Homo sapiens: one gene and its partners. The protein of the gene in region 2 interacts with the protein of the main gene of each other region in a pairwise test. Each region holds a gene or a part of one and is shown on either strand. Other genes may lie near its edges.

Evidence for each region.
Region 1: the proteins of PPL (region 2) and AHCYL1 interact in binary tests that used the Homo sapiens proteins (3 or more experiments, as listed by UniProt).
Region 3: the proteins of PPL (region 2) and HECTD3 interact in binary tests that used the Homo sapiens proteins (3 or more experiments, as listed by UniProt).

What each region holds. Positions count from the first base shown.
Region 1 is NC_000001.11:110,008,765-110,015,793, forward strand, and holds part of AHCYL1 (S-adenosylhomocysteine hydrolase-like protein 1), read left to right. Parts: intron 1-269; coding exon 270-381; intron 382-2,449; coding exon 2,450-2,593; intron 2,594-3,597; coding exon 3,598-3,698; intron 3,699-4,132; coding exon 4,133-4,235; intron 4,236-5,998; coding exon 5,999-6,093; intron 6,094-6,660; coding exon 6,661-6,767; intron 6,768-7,029. UniProt on the Homo sapiens protein: Multifaceted cellular regulator which coordinates several essential cellular functions including regulation of epithelial HCO3(-) and fluid secretion, mRNA processing and DNA replication.
Region 2 is NC_000016.10:4,885,129-4,892,157, reverse strand, and holds part of PPL (periplakin), read left to right. Parts: coding exon 1-123; intron 124-208; coding exon 209-347; intron 348-1,236; coding exon 1,237-1,430; intron 1,431-1,823; coding exon 1,824-1,974; intron 1,975-3,096; coding exon 3,097-3,180; intron 3,181-3,939; coding exon 3,940-4,056; intron 4,057-4,930; coding exon 4,931-5,023; intron 5,024-6,110; coding exon 6,111-7,029. UniProt on the Homo sapiens protein: Component of the cornified envelope of keratinocytes. May link the cornified envelope to desmosomes and intermediate filaments. May act as a localization signal in PKB/AKT-mediated signaling.
Region 3 is NC_000001.11:45,008,296-45,015,636, reverse strand, and holds the start of HECTD3 (E3 ubiquitin-protein ligase HECTD3), read left to right. Parts: upstream 1-4,312; 5' UTR 4,313-4,379; coding exon 4,380-4,748; intron 4,749-4,930; coding exon 4,931-5,091; intron 5,092-5,343; coding exon 5,344-5,436; intron 5,437-5,515; coding exon 5,516-5,651; intron 5,652-5,953; coding exon 5,954-6,069; intron 6,070-6,154; coding exon 6,155-6,268; intron 6,269-6,410; coding exon 6,411-6,493; intron 6,494-6,935; coding exon 6,936-7,101; intron 7,102-7,315; coding exon 7,316-7,341. Other genes in the region: UROD (uroporphyrinogen decarboxylase), read right to left, coding at 139-300, 631-697, 801-901, 1,061-1,198, 1,567-1,728, 1,846-2,043, 2,283-2,345, 2,422-2,501 and 2 more. UniProt on the Homo sapiens protein: E3 ubiquitin ligases accepts ubiquitin from an E2 ubiquitin-conjugating enzyme in the form of a thioester and then directly transfers the ubiquitin to targeted substrates.

The sequences.
Region 1 (7,029 bases), on a different chromosome or scaffold from region 2:
ATTGAACATATACTAAACGAAATTGGTTCTTAACCTTAGCCCCTCCTCCCAAATCCTGCAGAAACAATTGGGAAGAGACAGTGATTGACGTGTTGGGAGAAGTCAGAGAGTAGCCTCGGCCTTCCCCCATTTCTGGTGGGAAAGTTGCTGGCTTAGTAGGAACCATGTGATTACATGGCTTTTAGGGAAAGACAATGTATCCTTAAAAAAAAAAACATTTCATGGATTTTCCTTATAAGTTTTCAACTTTTTGTCTTCCTTTTGTATAGCAAATCCAGTTTGCTGATGACATGCAGGAGTTCACCAAATTCCCCACCAAAACTGGCCGAAGATCTTTGTCTCGCTCGATCTCACAGTCCTCCACTGACAGCTACAGTTCAGGTAGGTGTGAATGAACTCCATGTCCTCTCTAATCTCTCTTCCCTGTTTGCTACCAGTGCTCTTCACTTAGCAATCTGAAAATACCTCATGTTATGACTGCCCACCTTTGTGCTGAAAACTGTTAGTGGCTGGGCAGTGGGAATGTTCTGCAGCCAAGCTAGTAGCTGGGGAAGCTTTTGTCGACTCGAGACTTTCTTCCCCCTGGCTGTCTGTGTGTGTGGTCTGTGGCCAGTGCCCAGTTGGTAGGACTGGGCTAGTTCCCATTCCCACATTGATCCGCCCATTTCAAAAGGAAGAAATCAATGCTATTTTGGCTGACAGAATTGGACTTAAAAAAGAAGTGCATTTTGAAGCACGATTTCTTTGTGTAAAATATACCCTGTCACCTATCTCTTTCTTTCTTGTCTCCAAGACTGCTTAGATTGTAACAATAAAATTAGTATTTTGGCTTCTCTTATTTATTAGGTTATTCTTTCTGTTGGAATATCCTCCCCTGTTAGACTCTGGAGCAGGAAAGATTCAGACTACTGTAATGTAACTCCAGCTCTGTTTCTTTTTAGTTCTCTCCTCCTGTCTTAACTCTCTGTAAATAAAGTCTTTTTCTGTTTTGTATTGTGTCTTTCCCAACTATAGAGCATGTATTAGAAAATTAGCATGGAAAAGAATATAGAATCTTGGCAGATGAATACAGGAGAAAACATTAGGGACATCTAATGGGGCATCCAATACAACCTTGTCATTGTTTAACTGAAGACTCATTGTTAAAAGATTAAGAGGTTACAGATTGCTATTAATGTCAGCAGAGATATTTGTACCAAAAGCCATTCATTGTCCTTTGCCAGAATACCTTTTGCATTGTATTATCAACATTAAGGATTAACATAAATGAAAAGCTGTTATATATGATCCTGGAGTGACAGATAAAAAGTGGTGTGTGACAAGCAGGCTAACTGTAGCCAAGAAAGAAGAAAAATTAATTGTGAAAAATTGAGTTATGAGAGGAAGAACGATAAAACGACTGAAGAAGGCTTTTAAAAAGTCTTCAAAGATCTTGACGGCCATGTTACAGAAATGTATTAGAGCCTTTTAAAAAGCTTAGTGATATGGTTAAAATGTCATAGTGGGGAAGATAATCTTTAGTAGTATTTGTGTTAGCTGGACAGGAGGAGGACCTGTACATAGAAGTCAGTCAGTGAGAGAGTCCAGGTATACTAGCAGAAACCGTGATGAGGAAAGTACTCAATTCAGAGAGGAAAGAAGTGATTTGAGAGGTAAGGAATGATTGTTGTATATCCTCTTGCATATCTGTCAGATAAGTGGTATTTTTAGCTTTTATGTGAAACCACTTTTTAAAGTTGATCATTTTGACAGACTTTCCCAGGGCTATCAGTAGAACCAGAGCTGTTTGCCTTTTGTGCCATTTCTTTCTTTCTCTATTCCTTGAGCACAACTTAGTGTAAAATCCCTTGTAAGACTATCTTATCACTTTTGTCTATATCCATGGTTCTCAAAGTGTGATCCTCTGACTAGCAGCATCAGCAACACCTGGTAACTTGTTGGAACTACTAATGCTTAGGTGCCACTCCATACCTGCCAGATGGGAAACTGGCCACAGGGTCTAGCAATATATGTTTTAACAAACCTTCCATGTGATCCTGATAGATGCTTGAATTTGAGAACCAGTGATCTATAGAAATAGCATTCCTTATCTGCCCTAAATTATTCTTCTGTTTTTGCCAGGTCTGGTTCCAATCCAGATGGGACCAAGTACCTCTATTATCTGGGATTACTATAGCTGCAGGTTTATAATCAGTGGTCCCTTGTCATAGGCACTAATAGCACAGTATTGTTAGGGTGGGTGAAAGAGCTGCAACATGGAAGTACCCACAACAGTTTCATTCATACCACCTATTAGAACCTAGAGGAGCAGAACTGAGAGCGTTGTAAAAGGTAGCTCCAATTAAGGGTGTTCCCTTAACTTAAATGAAAGTCCCTTGGGGACTGCACTCTGTAGAGTTGGGGACCACTGAGGTTTTTCTATCCTTGTTTTTTTCTTTCCTGGCTCTAGCTGCATCCTACACAGATAGCTCTGATGATGAGGTTTCTCCCCGAGAGAAGCAGCAAACCAACTCCAAGGGCAGCAGCAATTTCTGTGTGAAGAACATCAAGCAGGCAGAATTTGGACGCCGGGAGATTGAGATTGCAGAGCAAGGTAAAGAAAGGGAGTGGGTTAGGGGACCAGAAACAACCCTCTTGTTGGCCATCAGAATCCACAAACAACTTAAGACTTGAAAGCTGACTTGAAAGTGTACTGGGAAGAAAGACAGTATTATGGACTTTCGGATAAACACTTCTCTCTCTATGGAACTTAAGTCTTGGGATTTTGTTCTCTCTTCCTTCTGTTCTCAGCATGTGGTGATTACACACAGAGTAGTTTCTGTTTTCCTCCTTGCCCCACCCCACCACTGTATTCAAAGATCTACATGGCAGAATTGACAAGTCCTAGATCACTACGTGGTAGTTGGTTATATGGGATCTTACTATAGCTGCCAATGGCAGAGACCCAGATTGCCCAGAAGCAGCTGATGAGGAAGGGTTTTAAGGTAAGGATGTGGTGACCTAGAGTCTTGTTTGGTCCTGAGCACCCTCTGCTGGAGCAGAGTAAAAGTGACTGACAGTTAAATCTTGGTTTCTCTACCCCAGCCACTCCCAGTAAGGTCCTCTTTACTCTTGTGTTGTTTACACATTGAAGGCATGTTCTATACTGAGAGAGAATAGAGAAACCAAACAGACTGACAGGACATGGTAAGACAGCATAGAAAAACAGAAGTTAGTGGTTTCGGCTGAGGGTACAGTCTTTCTGGTCTGATGATTATATATAGGAATCTATTAGCCAATGCCTTAACTATTTTCCTCTCTTCCCAAATGAATGATGAGACTCACCCTTCATTTTGATCAGTTTTAAGGATTTACTTCATTCTCTGTTCAGTCCTCTGTGTATAAAGCTGAAGCAGTAGAGGAAGAGAGAAACTCCAAGTGGTTGCATGACTGCTCTCCACTATTACTGTGCCGTTGAAGCTGCCAGTCGTCATGGAAATAGGCTTAAAGTTTTTCTGCCTCATCTCACCATATCTCAACAGATCCAGACCAGCCCTGGGGCAGGAACTGATGATACTGCTAGTGCAGACCTAGCTCAAATCCTCTGTTCTTTCACAGACATGTCTGCTCTGATTTCACTCAGGAAACGTGCTCAGGGGGAGAAGCCCTTGGCTGGTGCTAAAATAGTGGGCTGTACACACATCACAGCCCAGACAGCGGTGAGTTTGTTGGAAGAAAAGAGGGACTTCTGATAAGGGGAAGAAAGAAATCAATTTTTTTTTTTTCACTTTTCCTTTCCTAACTCGCCAACCTCCAAATGCTAACTATTAATAGGATCTCCCTGTTACACAATAATGGGGTTTTCTGGGTTTTTTTTTAATATGTAAACCCACTTTCAGCAAACTTGACCTAGGAAAGTCTAGATTTGCAAACATATGATTGTTATAAAATGTTATAAAGACTTTTAGAAACCTATGTTTTATGCAAAGTTAAATACCAGTGCACCACCTCGCTGGAGTACACCCTTTTGTAACTTTCCAGTGTAGCACCTGTTGGTGCAGAGTTGATAGGTATTGCTATCTTGATGAGGCTTGCTCTCCATTCCTGGGTGGCCCTTCTCTTCCTCACCCTGTCTTCCTACACTTCTACACAGGTGTTGATTGAGACACTCTGTGCCCTGGGGGCTCAGTGCCGCTGGTCTGCTTGTAACATCTACTCAACTCAGAATGAAGTAGCTGCAGCACTGGCTGAGGCTGGTAAGTTCGGTTTTTTCCCACCAACTTTGCCCCAAAATAGTTATCCAAACATATAACTTTTTTGTATCAAAATTGTCATTACAATATCATATATGTCTAGAGGCTATAAAATTGTGCATGATAAAAACCTCAACAGGAAGAAAGTGGATAATAAAATTAAGATGGATATCCATGGTGGAATATTATGTAGTCATTAAAAATGGCCTTTGAAAATAATCTAATGGCATGGGGTCATGCCCAGTTCTAGTGTTAGTTGAACGAGGAAGAATGTTAAACTATATAAGTGCCATCAATTTTGTGAGAGAGCACAAGTAAGAAGTACCTTTCATATTGATAGTGCATTAAATAATTTGGTATTCAGTATGGCATTGAAAATATATGAGCTATTTGTGAGTTTAATTAAACGTAAAATAATTTTTTATTATTCAGGCCAGGCCTGGTGGCCCACGCCTATAATCCCAGCACTTTGGGAGGCCGAGGCGGGCAGATCACTTGAGGCCAAGAGTTCAAGAACGGTCTGGCCAACATGGTGAAACCCCACCTCTACTAAAAATACAAAAGTTAGCCGGGAGTGGTGGTGTGCGCCTGTAATCTCAGCTACTCAGGAGGCTGAGGTAGGAGAACCACTTGAACCTGGGAGGCAGAGGCTGCAGTGAGCCGAGATCATGCCACTGCACTGCAGCCTGGGCGACAGAGTGAAACTCCATCTCAAAAATTAATAACAATAATAATAATTTTTATTATTCAAATATTCAGAAGAAAATCACCGTGAAGTTTCTTTGAGGACCTCTCATCTTTCTTTCTTTTTTTTTTTTTCTTAAGATGGAGTCTTACTCTGTTGCCCAGGCTGGAGTGCAATGGCGCAGTCTCGGCTCACTGCAACCCCTGCCTCCTGGGTTCAAGTGATTCTCATGCCTCAGCCTCCTGAGTAGCTGGGATTGCAGTGGCATGCCACCACACCCAGCTAATTTTTGTATTTTTAGTAGAGATGGGGTTTCACCATGTTGGCCAGGCTGGTCTCGAACTCCTGACCTCAAGTGATCTGCCTGCCTTGGCCTCCCAAAGTGCTGGGATTACAGGCGTGAGACACCACACCCAGCCGGACCTCTCATCTTTTTAAGATCCTCAGAAAGCAACTTTATAATACTTTTGGGTTTTTTTGTTTATTCTTTTCTGATAAGTGTTCACTGCAAAAAATTTAGGAAGTTCCCCAAAACCCTACAATCCCACTACATAGAGTATTTGATTAATGTTTTTCCTTTTCCTTTCTTCTACTTTACATAAATTCTAATATGTATACAGTTTTATAACCTAAATACAATATTTTCAGACGTAGTTTTCCATGTCACTGAAAACTTTGACAGCATCATTTGTAATAGTCATTCATATGGCTATGTGATTTCACCTCACTATTTTCCTAATGGAGAACATTTAGGTTGTTTCAAGATGTTTACTAATATCAATAATGCTCCAGTTAACAACTTTTATTAATTCCCACTTCATTTTATCTCCTTCTAAGTATAAAATTAGTCCAGAGAAAGGAACACTTTAAGGTTCCAAACTACTTTTAAAGCAAAAATTCCTTAATTTCTTAACCTAATTAATTTCTGAACCAAAAGTGATTCTTTGACTTTTGGCTCTGAATTTTTTCCCTTCTGAAATTGTTTCTTTTGCCTTTTTCTCTTCACATGGATCTCAGAAAGTGATTTGGTACAGGACACTCCTCAAAGGAGGAATCAGCTGATTCATTTCTGTCTCTACAGGAGTTGCAGTGTTCGCTTGGAAGGGCGAGTCAGAAGATGACTTCTGGTGGTGTATTGACCGCTGTGTGAACATGGATGGGTGGCAGGCCAACATGGTAATAATGCATATACATCCTACACTTTGACAATAGATTTATTTCCTTTTTTTCCCTCAAAGCATGGTTCCCTAAATATGTTTTGGATGTTTGGTCTTATGCACTGACTTTGTTGCTAAAGTGTTTAGCTTGATACCTATTCAGAATGGGTCTGAGTACTGAATGGAAAGGTGGGGGAAGGGTAAGACTAGCTGAACACATGGCTCAAACACACCAGAACAAAATAGTGGTGCTTCTTTGGAGTAGGATTCTGCTTTCTTTCCTTCCTGCCCCAGTTCTCCTTTTGCATTCAAAGGGGCTATATATTTCAAGACTCTAGACTAAAAATGAGTCTGTGATTAGCTTAATACTCATCACTGTAGCCTAAAGCAAACCTAGGAATCCTTTTAACCATTTTACACCAACAAATTTGACTGTATTTCCACTCTCTAAGCCTGCTCTAGGGAGCTCTGAGGAGTACTCTTCCAAAACATACAGGGCTCTCTTACTAGTACAGAAAGTGGGTTCAAAGTTCCCCCCAGCCCTAGCAGCCTGAATGCCCATAGAAGTCTTCTGGCTGTTCTATAGATCCTGGATGATGGGGGAGACTTAACCCACTGGGTTTATAAGAAGTATCCAAACGTGTTTAAGAAGATCCGAGGCATTGTGGAAGAGAGCGTGACTGGTGTTCACAGGTAACAGATTCTGGAGTAGCTGCCCCTTGTGTCCTTGCCTCAGCAAACTCTCCTGGTCTCTGTTAGGCTTTAGGACTGTGTTTCAGACTTATAACTAAATGGGAATATCTTCATTAGATAAAATTTTGAGTTTTTACTTTTGAAAAATCAAGTTGATCCTAGAAGGAAGTTATTTCAGGTTCTAGTTCATACATTTTTCTCTCCCATTTACTCCATTGAGTGATTCTCAACTAGTGTTGAGGGGCGGGTAGGGAATAAATGT
Region 2 (7,029 bases):
GGGCGAAGCCTTCATCCAGGCCCTCCCAGGCAGTGGCACCACACCCCTGCTGAGGACCCGGGTGGAGGACACCAACCGGAAATACGAGCACCTCCTGCAGCTGCTGGACTTGGCCCAGGAGAAGTGGGTGGCAGACAGGCAGCATGGAGGTTGGGGTGGGGTCAGGGGGCCAGGTGGGCATCCCCCGACGCCTGATTGGTGCTCTCAGGGTTGATGTGGCCAACCGCCTGGAGAAGAGCCTGCAGCAGAGCTGGGAGTTGCTGGCCACACACGAGAACCATCTGAATCAGGATGACACAGTGCCTGAGAGCAGCCGTGTCCTGGACAGCAAGGGGCAGGAGCTGGCGGTGAGTCTAGGGCCCAAGTCCTGGGAGTCCTTCTCTGAGCAGGTGAGAGCATCTGGCACATCCACCCGCCCGTCTGGATAGATGAGGACACCAGCATCCAGTCTCCCCAGGTTTGGAATGCCCAAATTGGGAACTGCAAATGGAGGCCCACAGCACAAATCCAAGCTATTCACGGGATCTGTGTGACTTACGGGATTTCGGGTGCCAGCATTTTAAGATCAAATATCTGCAATAGCCAGTGTAGTGGCACATGCCTGTAACACCAGCCATTCAGGAGGCTGGGGCAGGATTGCTTGAGCCTTGGAGTTTAAGTCCAGCCGCCTGGACAACGTTGCAAGACCCTATCTCTTAAAAAAAAAAAAAAAAAAAAAAAAGCATAAAGCACATAACAATCCATGTTCCCAGTATCTCTTGCTGAGCAGAGCTGGCATCCTGGGCTGCAGCTCAGAGGGCAAGTCAGTGGGCAGAGGAGCAGCTGCCTTCTCGGCCTGCTTACCTCGCAGTTGCCACGGGCCCCCTTCCCACACTGCCTGAGCACAGGAAACATTCAAGTCTGTGACCTGAGGCCCCTTATTCACACTCCCATCTCACGACTTGCTTTTGCCACAGCCTCATGACCAGACAGTGGCAGGCTGTTCTCGCGCAGGGCACGAGCTGCCTGCTGCAGGGTTTTTAGAAGTTAGCTTTTCAGGGCTTTGTTCATTGTTAAAAAACAGAAGATGGCAGAAGTGACCCAGGTTTGGGATGTACAGAGCAAGGCTCCGGTCCTTCCTACCTGTGGCCTTGCCCACCCTCCTACAGTCAGTGGCCCAGGGGCTTCAGTGGGTGTCATCGCCTGGCTCTGGGAGCTCTGGCCGTAGCACCGCCGTCTCCTCCTCTGCCCCGCCAGGCCATGGCCTGTGAGTTACAGGCCCAGAAGTCCCTCCTGGGTGAGGTGGAGCAGAACTTGCAGGCGGCCAAGCAGTGCTCGAGCACACTGGCCAGCCGCTTCCAGGAGCACTGTCCGGACCTGGAGCGCCAGGAGGCCGAGGTGCACAAGCTGGGCCAGCGTTTCAACAACCTGCGCCAGCAGGTGGAACGCAGGTGAGGGTGCGGTGGGTGGTGGCCATTTTTGTTTTCTGAGAATGCGATCTAATTCCCTCTAAGCAATGCTTTAGCCGTGTCCCACAGATTTTGCTGTTTTTCTTTTTGGTGAGTTCGTCAGATTCTCTGACGGCCCTGTGGTCTCTCTTTTGAGTCATGCTTACCTGGGTCCTGTAATCCACAATGGGCATCTCTGCAAGTCAATGTATATGGACCCACCTGGTTCTCCACAGTCCAACCTGACGTTCCCTAATGACCACCCACCCTGTGTGGGAGATACTTGGGGTATTTCTGGTTGTTACATTTGGTTGTTTCCCACTTTAAAAAAAAAAATGAGGGCTCGGTGAGGCATCTGTTTGCTGTGGCTGAGGCCTGAACGCTTTGCCTTGACAGGGCGCAGAGCCTACAGAGCGCCAAGGCAGCCTACGAGCACTTCCACCGCGGCCATGACCACGTGCTGCAGTTCCTAGTCAGCATCCCCAGTTACGAGCCCCAGGAGACAGACAGCCTCAGCCAGATGGAGACCAAGCTGAAGAACCAGAAGGTGAGATGGCCGTTTCCGCAGCCCCAGGCACACACTGGCAAGGGAGGGTCAGAGGTCAACAAGCCCCTTTCTGGGGAGCCAAGCCTTTGGGAGGTGGAGCAGGGCAGAGGCCTGCCACAGCTGTGTCCTCCCTGGGCCTCAGCTCAAGCTCCCAACACCCAACCCTCTGAGAACAAGAACCGAGTGTGTCGCTCACCTCTCCCAGCTCAGTGCCCCGCACAGGGCCTGGTGCAGAATGGACACTTGGCGTGGGTTGGCTATGTGAGTGAACAGCTACAGAATGAGGAGCCGCCTTTGTGGGGGAAATCCCATTTTCAAAGTTGGGACTCCTGCCTCCCCCATGCCCAACGCAGTGCCTTGGGGTGAGGGAGGAACACGGGAAGCCAATGGCTGAGATGCAAATCCCGGGTCCACCCCATCAGCCACATCCCCACCTCAGAAGCTTTCCTCACTCATAAGCTGGAGGTCACGATGCTTACCTCCTGGCATCGTTTGAAGATTAAATGAGATAATCTAAGTCAGACAGCAGAACAGTGTCTGGTGGTCCAAATCATCAGTAAACATTTGTTTCCTAGCAGAGATAATGATCTTGGCCCTTCTTCACAGAGCCTTAGAACTGCCTTTTGTGGCTGGGCGCGGTGGCTCACACCTGTAATCCCGGCATTTTGGGAGGCTGAGGCAGGAGGATCACAAGTTCAGGAGTTCAAGACCAGCCTGGCCAACATAATGAAACCAAATCTCTACTAAAAATACAAAAAAAAATTAGCTGGGTATGGTGGCAGGAGCCTGTAGTCCCAGCTACTTGGGAGGCTGAGGCAGGAGAATTGCTTGAACCCAGGAGGCTAAGGCTGCAGTGAGCTGAGATCGCGCCACTGTACTCCAGCCTGGGCGATGCAGTGAGACTGTCTCAAAAAAAAAAAAAAAAAAAAAAAAAAAAAAAAACAACAACAACAAAAAAACTGCCTTTTGCAATGAATAAAAATGTATACAAGGGAGCCATTCATCATACTTTGTGCTAGAGAAGAATAAATTCAGATTCTGAGATTTCCAGCTACTGCATCCATGGTTGCTTTTTTAAATTTTTTTTCTGGTTAGTTTTGATTTTTAAACTCTGTCTTACAGAACCTGCTAGATGAGATAGCAAGTAGGGAGCAGGAAGTACAGAAGATCTGTGCCAATTCCCAGCAGTACCAGCAAGCTGTAAAGGTGAGCCGGGAAACTTCCGCCCAAAGCACAAACAGCAGGGGTCTTATTCCACCGTGCCCTGGTCAGAGAAGCAGCAAGCACCGGCCCTGGCACATGGGGGTGGAGCTGGCCATCCGAGGCACTGCCGGCTGCTGTGCAAACTGGCACAGGCTTTTGGGAAAACAGCATGGTACTAGACATGGAATGCTGTAAAAGGGTTTTATACTCTGAAGCAGTAAACACTTTGGGGGAATTTATCCTTAAGGAAAAAGTACAAAAAAAAAAATGCAGGATAAACAACATTGTTGCAACAGCACTATTTACAATAGCAAAACTAGTACGCTGGAAAGGACTGGTGTCCAGTGGAAGGGGAAAGCTGCGTGAATCAGCACACATCCACCTGATGGATTATAAAGTCAGCAAGCTGGTAAACATGAGAAGAGGTGGTGGCAAGGTGAGACAGGGTTATGGTACGATGTTAAAAGCAGCAGCAGAATGTGAAAATCTCTAGGCATGTAGAAAGGCTGGGAGGGGAATTCAGGGGGCACTTCTTGTCTCATATGTTACTGAGTGATGGAGCTATGTACTGCTGAGATATCAGTAATTCTCAAAACCTCCTGGAAATCACTGCAGGGTGCAGCTGTGAGGAAGACCCACGCAGATTATAAAACCAGCACATGGCACAGGGCAGGTCTGGGTCAGCCTGAAGGGGTACAGGAACATGTCTGTCTCTTCTCAGCTGTTTTAATCTCCCCTCTGCCATGTCTCTCCCTCATGCAGGACTATGAGTTAGAAGCAGAAAAACTAAGGTCTCTTCTCGACTTGGAGAATGGAAGGAGAAGCCACGTGAGCAAGAGAGCCAGGCTCCAATCTCCTGCCACCAAAGTGAAGGAAGAGGTGAGTTCCATGGGCCAGGCGGCCTCGGGACTGAGGTGGAGGCCAAGCTGCCCTGCTCCCCAGGGAGCATGGTGTCACACGCTGGCCTCAGAGATGCACACACAACAGGGAAGCCACTGAGAGCCCTCCTGCATGCAAACAGGTTTGGTAAGAGATGAGGAACTTGTTCTAGGGCAGTGACATCAATATGCCTAGAAAGACAGCAAGGCCGGGCGCAGTGGCTCACACCTGTAATCCTAGCACTTTGGGAGGCCGAGGTGGGAGAACTGCTTGAGCCCAGGGGTTGGAGACCAGCCTGGGCAACAAAGCAGGACCCCATATCTACAAAAATATTAGCCAGGCGTGGTGGTGCAAACCTGTAGTCCCAGCTACTTGGGAGGTTGAGGAGGGAGGATCACTTGGGCCCAGGAGTTCAAGGCTGCAGTGAGCTACAATCACACCATGGCACTTCAGTCTGAGTGAAAGAGATTCTGTCTTTAAGAAATAAAAATTTTTGAAAATGCAGCTGAACAGAAGTGTCAGGGTCAGAACCATGGATCTGGGAAGTTCCTGTTTTGCTCACCTCAGTAAGTACAGTGGAGGGCTGATATTAGTCTCCTGTACACACAAGAGAGAACACTGGTGCTCTAAGAGGCAGAAAGACTTGCTCAAAGTCAGTGTGGCCAAGACCCTGGCCTGGATCTTCTGCCTCGAGATCCATTTTTCTCTCCACCGGTGAGGCTACAGTCTAACTCCAGGCAGGAGTGGGCAAGAGCTATGCCTCTACCCCCAAATTCCACACTTCTCAAGAACCACGTCCACGCTGTCTAGCTCTCTGTTGCTTACCCTGTTGACACCTGTTTGTTGACCGCTCTCCTAATCCTCTTCTCTGCAGGAAGCAGCACTTGCCGCCAAGTTCACTGAAGTTTATGCCATCAACAGACAGAGGCTGCAGAATCTGGAGTTTGCTCTGAATCTCCTCAGACAGGTAACTGATCTTAGTAAGAAATTCTACTTCAGGCTGTTCTAACAGGTGACAAATACAGACTCTGTCTTAGAGAAATGGTTTGTGAATTGATGGAAGTGTCCCCTTGCTAACGTTTCTGGGCAGGGCCAATGCAAAGACTGGCCCGAGCCAATGCTTCTACTGACATGAGAACTTATTCAACTCAGTAAACATCTGCTGAAAGTGAATGCTATTTTCAGCTGGGCATGGTGGCTCACGCTTGTAATCCCAGCACTTTGGGAGGCCGAGGCAGGCGGATCACCTGAGGTCAGGAGTTCGAGACCAGCCTGGCCAACATGGTAAAACTCCGTCTCTACTAAAAATACAAAAATTAGCTGGGCGTCGTGGCGCATGCTTGTAATCCCAGCTACTCAGGAGACTGAGGCAGGAGAATTGCTTGAACCCAGGAGGTGGAGGTTGCAGGGAGCTGAGACTGTGCCACTGCACTCCAGCCTGGGCAACAGAGCGAGACTCTGTCTCAGAAAAAAAGAAAGAAACAAAAGAAAGTGAATGTTATTTTCTGAAGTCCATGATGTTGATGACAGCATTGTTTTTTAATAGCAAGACACTGGAAGCAGTTCACTCTTCATCAGCAATGGGCTAAACTGCGGTCTGTCCAGAGAGCGGAAACAATGCTGCTGGTAAATCCTGAAGCAGCACTCTCTGTGCTGAGCTGGAATGAGCTCTGTAAGTGCAGTGAGCAGCAGGAATACCATTTGTGCAGGAGAGATAAACACATGGTACATACTACAGACAGATATTCTTGTGTGAGCACAGATAGCATCTGCAAGGCTGACAGACACGCCCTAGGACGGGGACCAGAGGTGGGAGACCGTGGTTTCATTTTAAACTCTTCCACAGCTCAAAAATGTTTTACCTGATTAAAAAAAACCCCAAACTAGTTGTTTGATCCTTTTTGAAAGTAACCCTAGAACTCTACAACTAACATGAACTGGCACTGAGGGAGTCCCTTGGGGACCACAGGACAGCCACTCTGACCAGGTGGGGACAGGCCCTACATGTGCTGCCAGAGCCTGGCTTTAACCTTGTCTTGTCTTCTCCATCACAGCAGCCGGAAGTAGAAGTGACCCATGAGACCCTGCAAAGGAATAGGCCGGACTCTGGAGTGGAGGAGGCGTGGAAGATCAGGAAGGAACTGGATGAGGAGACTGAGCGGAGGCGGCAGCTGGAGAACGAGGTCAAGAGCACCCAGGAAGAAATCTGGACCTTGAGGAATCAGGGGCCTCAGGAATCGGTGGTGAGGAAGGAGGTGCTCAAGAAGGTGCCGGATCCCGTGCTGGAGGAGAGCTTCCAGCAGCTGCAGCGGACGCTGGCAGAGGAGCAGCACAAGAACCAGCTGCTGCAGGAGGAGCTGGAGGCACTGCAGCTGCAGCTGCGTGCCCTGGAGCAGGAGACCAGAGACGGGGGGCAGGAGTACGTGGTCAAGGAGGTCCTGCGCATCGAGCCTGACAGGGCCCAGGCGGATGAGGTCTTGCAGCTGCGGGAGGAGCTGGAGGCACTGAGGCGGCAGAAGGGCGCCCGGGAGGCAGAGGTGCTCCTCCTGCAGCAGCGTGTGGCCGCCCTGGCTGAAGAGAAGAGCCGGGCGCAGGAGAAGGTCACAGAGAAAGAGGTGGTGAAACTGCAGAATGACCCCCAGCTGGAGGCAGAGTACCAGCAGCTGCAGGAGGACCACCAGCGCCAGGACCAGCTCAGGGAGAAGCAGGAGGAGGAGCTGAGCTTCCTCCAGGACAAGCTCAAGAGGCTAGAGAAGGAGCGGGCCATGGCCGAGGGCAAGATCACCGTCAAGGAGGTGCTCAAGGTGGAGAAGGACGCGGCCACCGAGAGGGAGGTCAGCGATCTCACCCGCCAATATGAGGACGAGGCTGCCAAGGCTCGCGCTAGCCAGAGGGAGAAGACGGAGCTGCTCCGAAAGATATGGGCCTTGGAGGAGGAGAACGCCAAAGTGGTGGTGCAGGAGAAGGTGCGGG
Region 3 (7,341 bases), on a different chromosome or scaffold from region 2:
CAGAGGCTAAGAAGAACTGAGGATATGGGCACAATCTTTCACAAACAAAACTACACAATAGTTCAACTCCGAAACTTTTATTGTCCTGGAAACGATCAATCATCTGTGTTAGTGGTACTTGAGGGTAAAGGTATACACTCAGTTCTGTCGAAGCAGACGTGAGTGTTTATGCACAGCATCCACAAAGGCGCCCACATGTTCTGGGTCCATGTCAGGATAAAGCCCATGGCCCAGGTTGGCAATGTAGCGATGTGGTCCAAAGTCATCCAGCATCTGCTTCACCAACTGCCCGATCTCCTCCTGGGGGACCAACAGGGCACTGGCTACAGGAGGACCAGCAAGCCTTTGTCCTCCCTATATATACTAGTGACAAACGCATATGTAGGCATGCTTCTACTCAGTGTTATTCAGTCATTCAATAAAATTTATCAGATCCCTAGTATGGACCCAGGCATGAAGCATAAACACAAATGAACAACAGCAACAAAAAGTCCGGTCTTTCTAGGGCTTATGTTGTACAGAGTAGAAGAAAAGGACAGACAGACATTAAAAACAAGTGCACACAGAATAATACAGCCACAGCCACAGGAGTGCACAGTAACAGACACACAGAGGGGCCCTGGCTGTTACCTCAGATGCATACAAGGCACAGGGGTCCAGGTTGCCCTGCAATGTCACCGTCTTCCCCACACACTCCCTGGAAGCAAAGCCAGCGCCACGTTCTGGTAACTGCATACATGGCAGCTCCCCCAGCCAACACCCCCACCTCAACCTCAAGGCCTCACCCTTCCATGGCTTACCGGGCTTTCTTTGGGGCCACTGTCCAGTCAAGCCCAACCACCTCATAGCCAGCTTGGGCCAGCTCCTCCAGGGCAAAATGCCCATCCTTAGCAAAGATGATCTAGAAAAAAGCAGATCTCAGGCTACAGAGGGCCTTGCTACAACCACTAATCTTTCTTGACTGTACTTCTGCTGCCCTCCAGTGGTCACTCCAGTCCATGCAGGACTTAGCCTGAAAGCTCCACAGGACCACCTTCACTCAACCCATCCCAATCCTCACCATGGGCACTGGTGCCAGGCCTGCCTCCCGCAACCTGGCCTTCACTTGCTTGGCCACATCACGGATGTAAGGCAGTGCAAACTTGTTGAAGAGCTGTGGGCCAAGATGCCCTGCATGGGACTCAAACAGCTGCAATGCCTAGTTAGGGTATGGTGAAGAAAAATATGTAACACACAAAGAGGAAGTTTCCCCCACATACAAAATCCACCTCAATTTTCCCCAAATGACTTCAATCCCTGATACTGCCTGACCCTAAAAACCCAGTAATTAAAAAAAAAAAAATTTACTTTCCTCAGATCCCAGCACTAACTTTGGTGTCTGAATACTTAGAGCATTAAGCCCCACTGTCAGTGTCAGGATGGGCTTGGCTGCTCCGCTAGATCACTGGAGGCCAAGGTTCTTTCATCCCTGGCATTAAGACCCCTGCCCTCTCAGGTTTAGGACACTCTTGCTTCTGGTCCTTACAGACCAAATCCCAGCCTATTTCTCTCTCTCTCAGGACTCACCTGGGCACCAGCCACCACTTGTCCTACCAGATATGGGACCAGAGCATCAGTGAGGATGCGAAGCAGCTGGTGACTAGCCTGAGGTCTCTGATAGAGCCAGCGCTTGGCCTGAGCCATGGTGCTTGAGCCACCACCCTCAACCATGTATGTCATCAGGGTCCACTAGAGAAGGATAGAAAGATGGTGTCACAGAAGCCAGACTGACCCTTCCTTTTGTCTACCCCAGACCTTCCAGAGTGATCTCCCCGCGCCCCGAGTCCCTGCCCTGTCCCACATTACTGGGGCACCAGCAAAGCCAATCAGCGGCACACGTCCAGCCAGTCGTTGTCGGGTAAGGGTGATGGCTTGGAACACATAGCCTAGCTCAGAGGCTACCACTTCTGGATCCCGTAGGCGTTCTAGGTCCTGCTCTTCTCTTAATGGCTCTGGGAAGCTGGGTCCTTTGCCAGGTACCATGGTCACCTCCATGCCCAGTGCCTGGAGGGGGAGAAAACATCTGGGTTCCCAAAATGGAATCCAGGAGGAAAGGTTCTGTTCAGCTCATTCCAGGAGGAAGGAAAAGGAGAATAAAACTCTGCCAAACTCCATTTCTTTCAACCTTAGTTTTTCCCTCGATCCAGTTAGGATAAGTGCTTATTGTAAACCTTGACTGGACTGATAGAAGGATTTTCAAGGCGTCCTTGGATTATATTCTAGGATCAGGTTTGAGTGGGTACCTGGGGTACAACAAGGATGTCGGAGAAAATGATGGCAGCATCCAGAGGGAAGCGACGCAGTGGCTGTAGGAAACAGGAGACAGGTTGCTAGGTGGCAGACTGAAGGCATAAATCTTTCCCTCTTTTGTGGACCCCTCACCTGCAGAGTCAGTTCACAGCAGGCCTCAGGAGAGCGACACGTGCTGAAAAAGTCCTGGGCAGCCCGGGTTTCCCTAAACTCTGCATACAGAGGGAAGACAGGGCTCAGCCTTGAGGCCCTCCAGAGCCCTCCCCTGCCCCTCGAAAACTTTTCTCCCTCCGGAGTTTTATCTAGATTTCCAGACCCTGACTCTTACCTGGTAAGTAACGGCCTGCCTGGCGCATGCACCAAACGGGAGTGTAGTCTGTTTCCTCTCCCCAGGCTGCTCGCAGGAATGTGTCATTCTTCAGCTCCGGAAAACCCTGAGGTCTGGCGATCAGGTGGGGGTGGGGGTAGGTGTCAGTATGCTACGCTGGAGGCTGGGGAAAGCGCGGGTTCATAAGGCCGATTCAGTCCAGGACCGCTATCTACCTCCTCCAGGCCAGCTCCCAAACCCTGGCTTTCCGCCCGTTCCGCCTCCTCTCTGCCTATCAGGTGGTGCACAAACTCCAGAAGGGCCCGCCCTGGGGCCTCTTCCCTCCACTTAGTCTCTACTCTTCCAAGCTCGAAGCAACCAGAGGGACTGGGGGGAGGGAATGAAGGCCCACTAAGGATAGTTTGGGGGTCTTCGAACTAGTGAGCCTCAGAAACGGGAATGTCACTGGGCTGGTTCAGGGGCTGAGAAATACCCAGGCTGGGGGATAAAGAGGGATCAGAGTTGATGGTCCCAGAATAGAGATCCTGGTTGGAAATCCTGAGGCATCCCTTGAATTAAGGCCCTGGGATGAACATCTCAAAAATCCATGGTTTTAGGATTCAGGATCCCAGCTAACGGAGTTCAGGTTGGGAGGTCTCCAGGGTGGGGAAAGGGGAGTAGAGGGATAGAGTCCTGAGTTGGAAGACTCAAATTAGAAGCCCGGCTAGCCACACCGCGTGCTCTGGAGAACTCACCCCAACCCATTCGCTTCCATGGTCAGCTGTCTGTAACTGCGAGCTCAATCCACAATTTAACCTGAATCTGAGCCTGCCCCCCAGTCCAGGCTCCGCCCCTTTCTGTAGGGAACCAAGAGCGTCGCCATGTTGAAGATCACATGATCGGACTCCAGCGACAGCTCCAGGGCTGCCCTGGCTGCTGCCCGTAGGACCCCTACCTTTTTTCACCGTAAAGTTTGCTGTAGCGACGCAACAACAAAGGCCCAAAAGAAAACTCCGCTGTAAATGTATCTTACGGTGACATGAGGAATTTGTTCTCATCTGACAGTCTGGGTATCCGGAGGCTTGGCGCAAGTCCCACTCATGATACCAACAGTCTTATCCAGCCAGGTCCATACTATAGCCTGGACCTATAGTAGGTGCAGAGGTTAGCTCTGCTCAAGACAGCCCCAGCCTTTAAGGAGCTACAAGACTGGGGAAACAGAAATCAGCAATCACATTAAAATGAATAATGATCTCCAGTGTCCTTGGGATTAGGAGTGACAAACAGAATCAACCCTAATGACTCAAGACTCCTGTCAGTGGCAGGGGAAGGGGCCATTGTCTCAAACACTTTAATCACACCACCCATAGGATAGGGAGTCCAGCAGATTCGCTGGGAGTGGGAGGAAAAACAGCAGGCCGAAGAACCAGAAAAATGACTGTTGGCAATGACCCAGGCTAGCTAGAATGGTGACTTGAATGAGGGTAGTAGCAGTAGAGATAAAATGGTAGTCACAAGGAAATGGAGAGAGGGAGATTGATCAGGTAGCAATCACCAATCTTGGGTTTGGTCGGCTGGGTTAGGGTGGCACAGAGATAAGTAATATGGTTGAGTGTGGGAGTACACAGTCCAATACAGTGAGAGCTGGGGTGCGCTTAGTCCAGAACATACGGCAAAGGCTGGCCAAAGGCGGGGAAGGGCGTGGTGGGAAGCTCTGTCCGCGGTCGCGCCAGCTGTTCCCCGGGCAGGGTCGCCTCTAGGTGCTCACCTCCGCCACTTCGCCATGGCGGGTCCTGGCCCGGGCGCGGTGCTGGAGTCCCCCCGGCAGCTGCTGGGCCGCGTGCGCTTCTTGGCAGAGGCAGCGCGGAGCCTCCGCGCCGGGCGGCCGCTGCCAGCAGCGCTGGCTTTCGTGCCGCGAGAGGTGCTCTACAAGCTTTACAAGGACCCAGCGGGACCGTCGCGCGTGCTTCTGCCGGTGTGGGAGGCAGAGGGCCTGGGGCTGCGTGTGGGCGCCGCAGGCCCAGCCCCCGGTACCGGCTCCGGGCCCCTCCGCGCCGCCCGCGACAGCATTGAGCTCCGGCGCGGCGCCTGCGTGCGCACCACGGGCGAGGAGCTGTGCAATGGCCACGGGCTCTGGGTGAAGCTGACAAAGGTGCGCTCTTCCCTGCCCAGGACCCGGTAAAAGACCCCTGGGGCCAGAGAAACCTCTGGCTGTTTGCCTTTTCTCCCCTGTATTGAGTTGGCATTGCGTTCGGCGCCCTTTGCCCTGGGCTGGGCACGACAGGCGGCTGGGCAGTTCCCTGACGGCTGTCCCCATCCTACGCGTCCCGGCAGGAGCAGCTGGCAGAGCACCTGGGCGACTGCGGGCTGCAGGAAGGCTGGCTGCTGGTGTGCCGCCCGGCGGAGGGCGGAGCCCGCCTGGTACCCATCGACACTCCCAACCACCTCCAGCGGCAGCAGCAGCTCTTTGGCGTGGATTATCGGCCGGTGCTCAGGTACTGCACTTGAAGGAGCGGGGCTGGCTGTCAGAAGGCCGGGCCAGGAGGGCTTGGGAACACTTCAGCCACAGCCTGGGGTGGGTGGGATACTGGAGCGGAGGCAGGGTTAAGAGCAGAAAGGGGCGGGACGTGAAGGGGGCTCGGAGGGAGACTGGGAGATAGAGCCCTGAAGAAGGCTACACGGCATGGAGGTAGTGTCTTGCTGACCGCTGATGTCTCCCCATCCCACTCCCTACTCTGTGCCCACAGGTGGGAACAGGTGGTGGACCTGACATACTCACATCGCCTGGGATCGAGACCTCAGCCGGCAGAGGCATACGCAGAAGCTGTACAAAGGCTACTGTGAGTGAGCTGGAATGGGGTGGGGAGGAAGGAGCTCTGCGTCTGGGCCCAGTCTAATTAGGGGCTTGGGGTTGCTTAGCTATGTACCCCCGACATGGACCTACGAGTGCGACGAGGACCTGATCCACTTCTTGTATGACCACCTGGGCAAGGAGGATGAGAACCTGGGTAGCGTGAAGCAGTATGTGGAGAGCATAGACGTTTCCTCCTACACGGTGGGTGCTGGGGCTCCTCCCACCCCAGGCAAGATATAGTCACACCCCTCAAGGCTAGATCCAGAAAGAACCCCCACCTGCAGGCCAGGACTAAAACAGGGTCCCCACAGGCCACACTCAGTTCAGCTCCCCATCTTGGACGTCTATAGGACCCCTTACATACCCAGCGGCCCCCTATCCCATACCAGTTGCCTGTTAGCCCAACTTCACTATGCTTTCTCTCTGGTGCTCCTGGCCCAGAGCACAAGCCCAGTGCAGGGAGGGAGGGTAACTGCTGACTTCACGTCTCTGCCCCTCCCCAGGAGGAGTTCAACGTGTCCTGCCTGACAGACAGCAATGCCGATACCTACTGGGAGAGCGATGGGTCCCAGTGCCAACACTGGGTACGGCTTACTATGAAGAAGGGCACCATTGTCAAGTAAGTAGGCTCTGGGCAGGACAGGGTGGGTGGGCTATGTCCCTGTGGGTTCACAAAGACTCATATTCACACTCTGACCCTTCAGGAAGCTGCTACTCACAGTGGATACCACAGATGACAACTTTATGCCAAAGCGGGTGGTGGTCTATGGGGGTGAAGGGGACAACCTGAAGAAGCTGAGTGACGTGAGCATTGACGAGTGAGCACGCTGGCCTGGGGAGGGAAGTAGGGCATGTTCCAAGCCTAGCCCAGCTTGAAAGCCTAAGTTTGAGTGAGACTCCAGCAGTCTCTGAAGGCCTGAGGCAGGAGGTATCTGAAGTGCTTCACACTCATCTCCTCAGGACCCTCATCGGGGATGTCTGTGTCCTGGAGGACATGACCGTCCACCTCCCGATCATCGAGATCCGCATCGTGGAGTGCCGAGGTGAGGTTTAAGGCTATAAGGAGGGAAAGAGAGCCCGGCGTGGAGATGGGGGCAAACAGAGAGTGTGTGTGGAGAGAAGAGGATGGGCTTGGAGTTGGGGTGAAGGCGATGCTGAACTAACTCCAGGATTTGGAGCTTTGGGGCCTGAGCCAGCTGGGACATGCCAGGTATAGGCCTGCCTTAAAGCCATACAGGTGGTTGGGCTCACCTGGAAGAGGAACTGAGTTGGGACCCTCAGGCATCCCAGCATTCTAGTGGAAGACAGAGGAATCAGCAGGAATAGATCAATCAGAATCAGGTGATAGAAGGTGATCCCGAAGGTCCCGAGTTTCTAGGGGCTAACGGTGACACAAGGCTGAGCGTTCAAGGAGCCGGTCCCAGGTCTGAGGGCCAAGGAGGCAGCAGGTGCTGTAAATGACCTTACTCTGACCCCTTCCCCCAGATGATGGGATTGATGTTCGTCTCCGAGGGGTCAAGATCAAGTCATCTAGACAGCGGGAACTAGGGTTGAATGCAGACCTGTTCCAGCCAACTAGTCTGGTGCGATATCCACGCCTAGAAGGCACCGACCCTGAAGTACTGTACCGCAGAGCTGTCCTCCTGCAGAGGTGGCTGTGGTCCTGGACCTATGGGCCCTTCCCTTCCCCCAACATTGAGCCTTGTGTGTCTGCATGGAGGAGGTTCCCAAGGTCTCATAGTATAAGCTGTTCAAGGGTCAGAGAAGCCCCCAGGTCCTGCCTTTTCCTGTCCCTTTATGTTGGGGAGTTGGGGGTGTTACAGGTATGCTAAACTCTTTAGCTGCAGTCTATCTACCCATGCCAGATTCATCAAGATCCTCGATAGTGTCC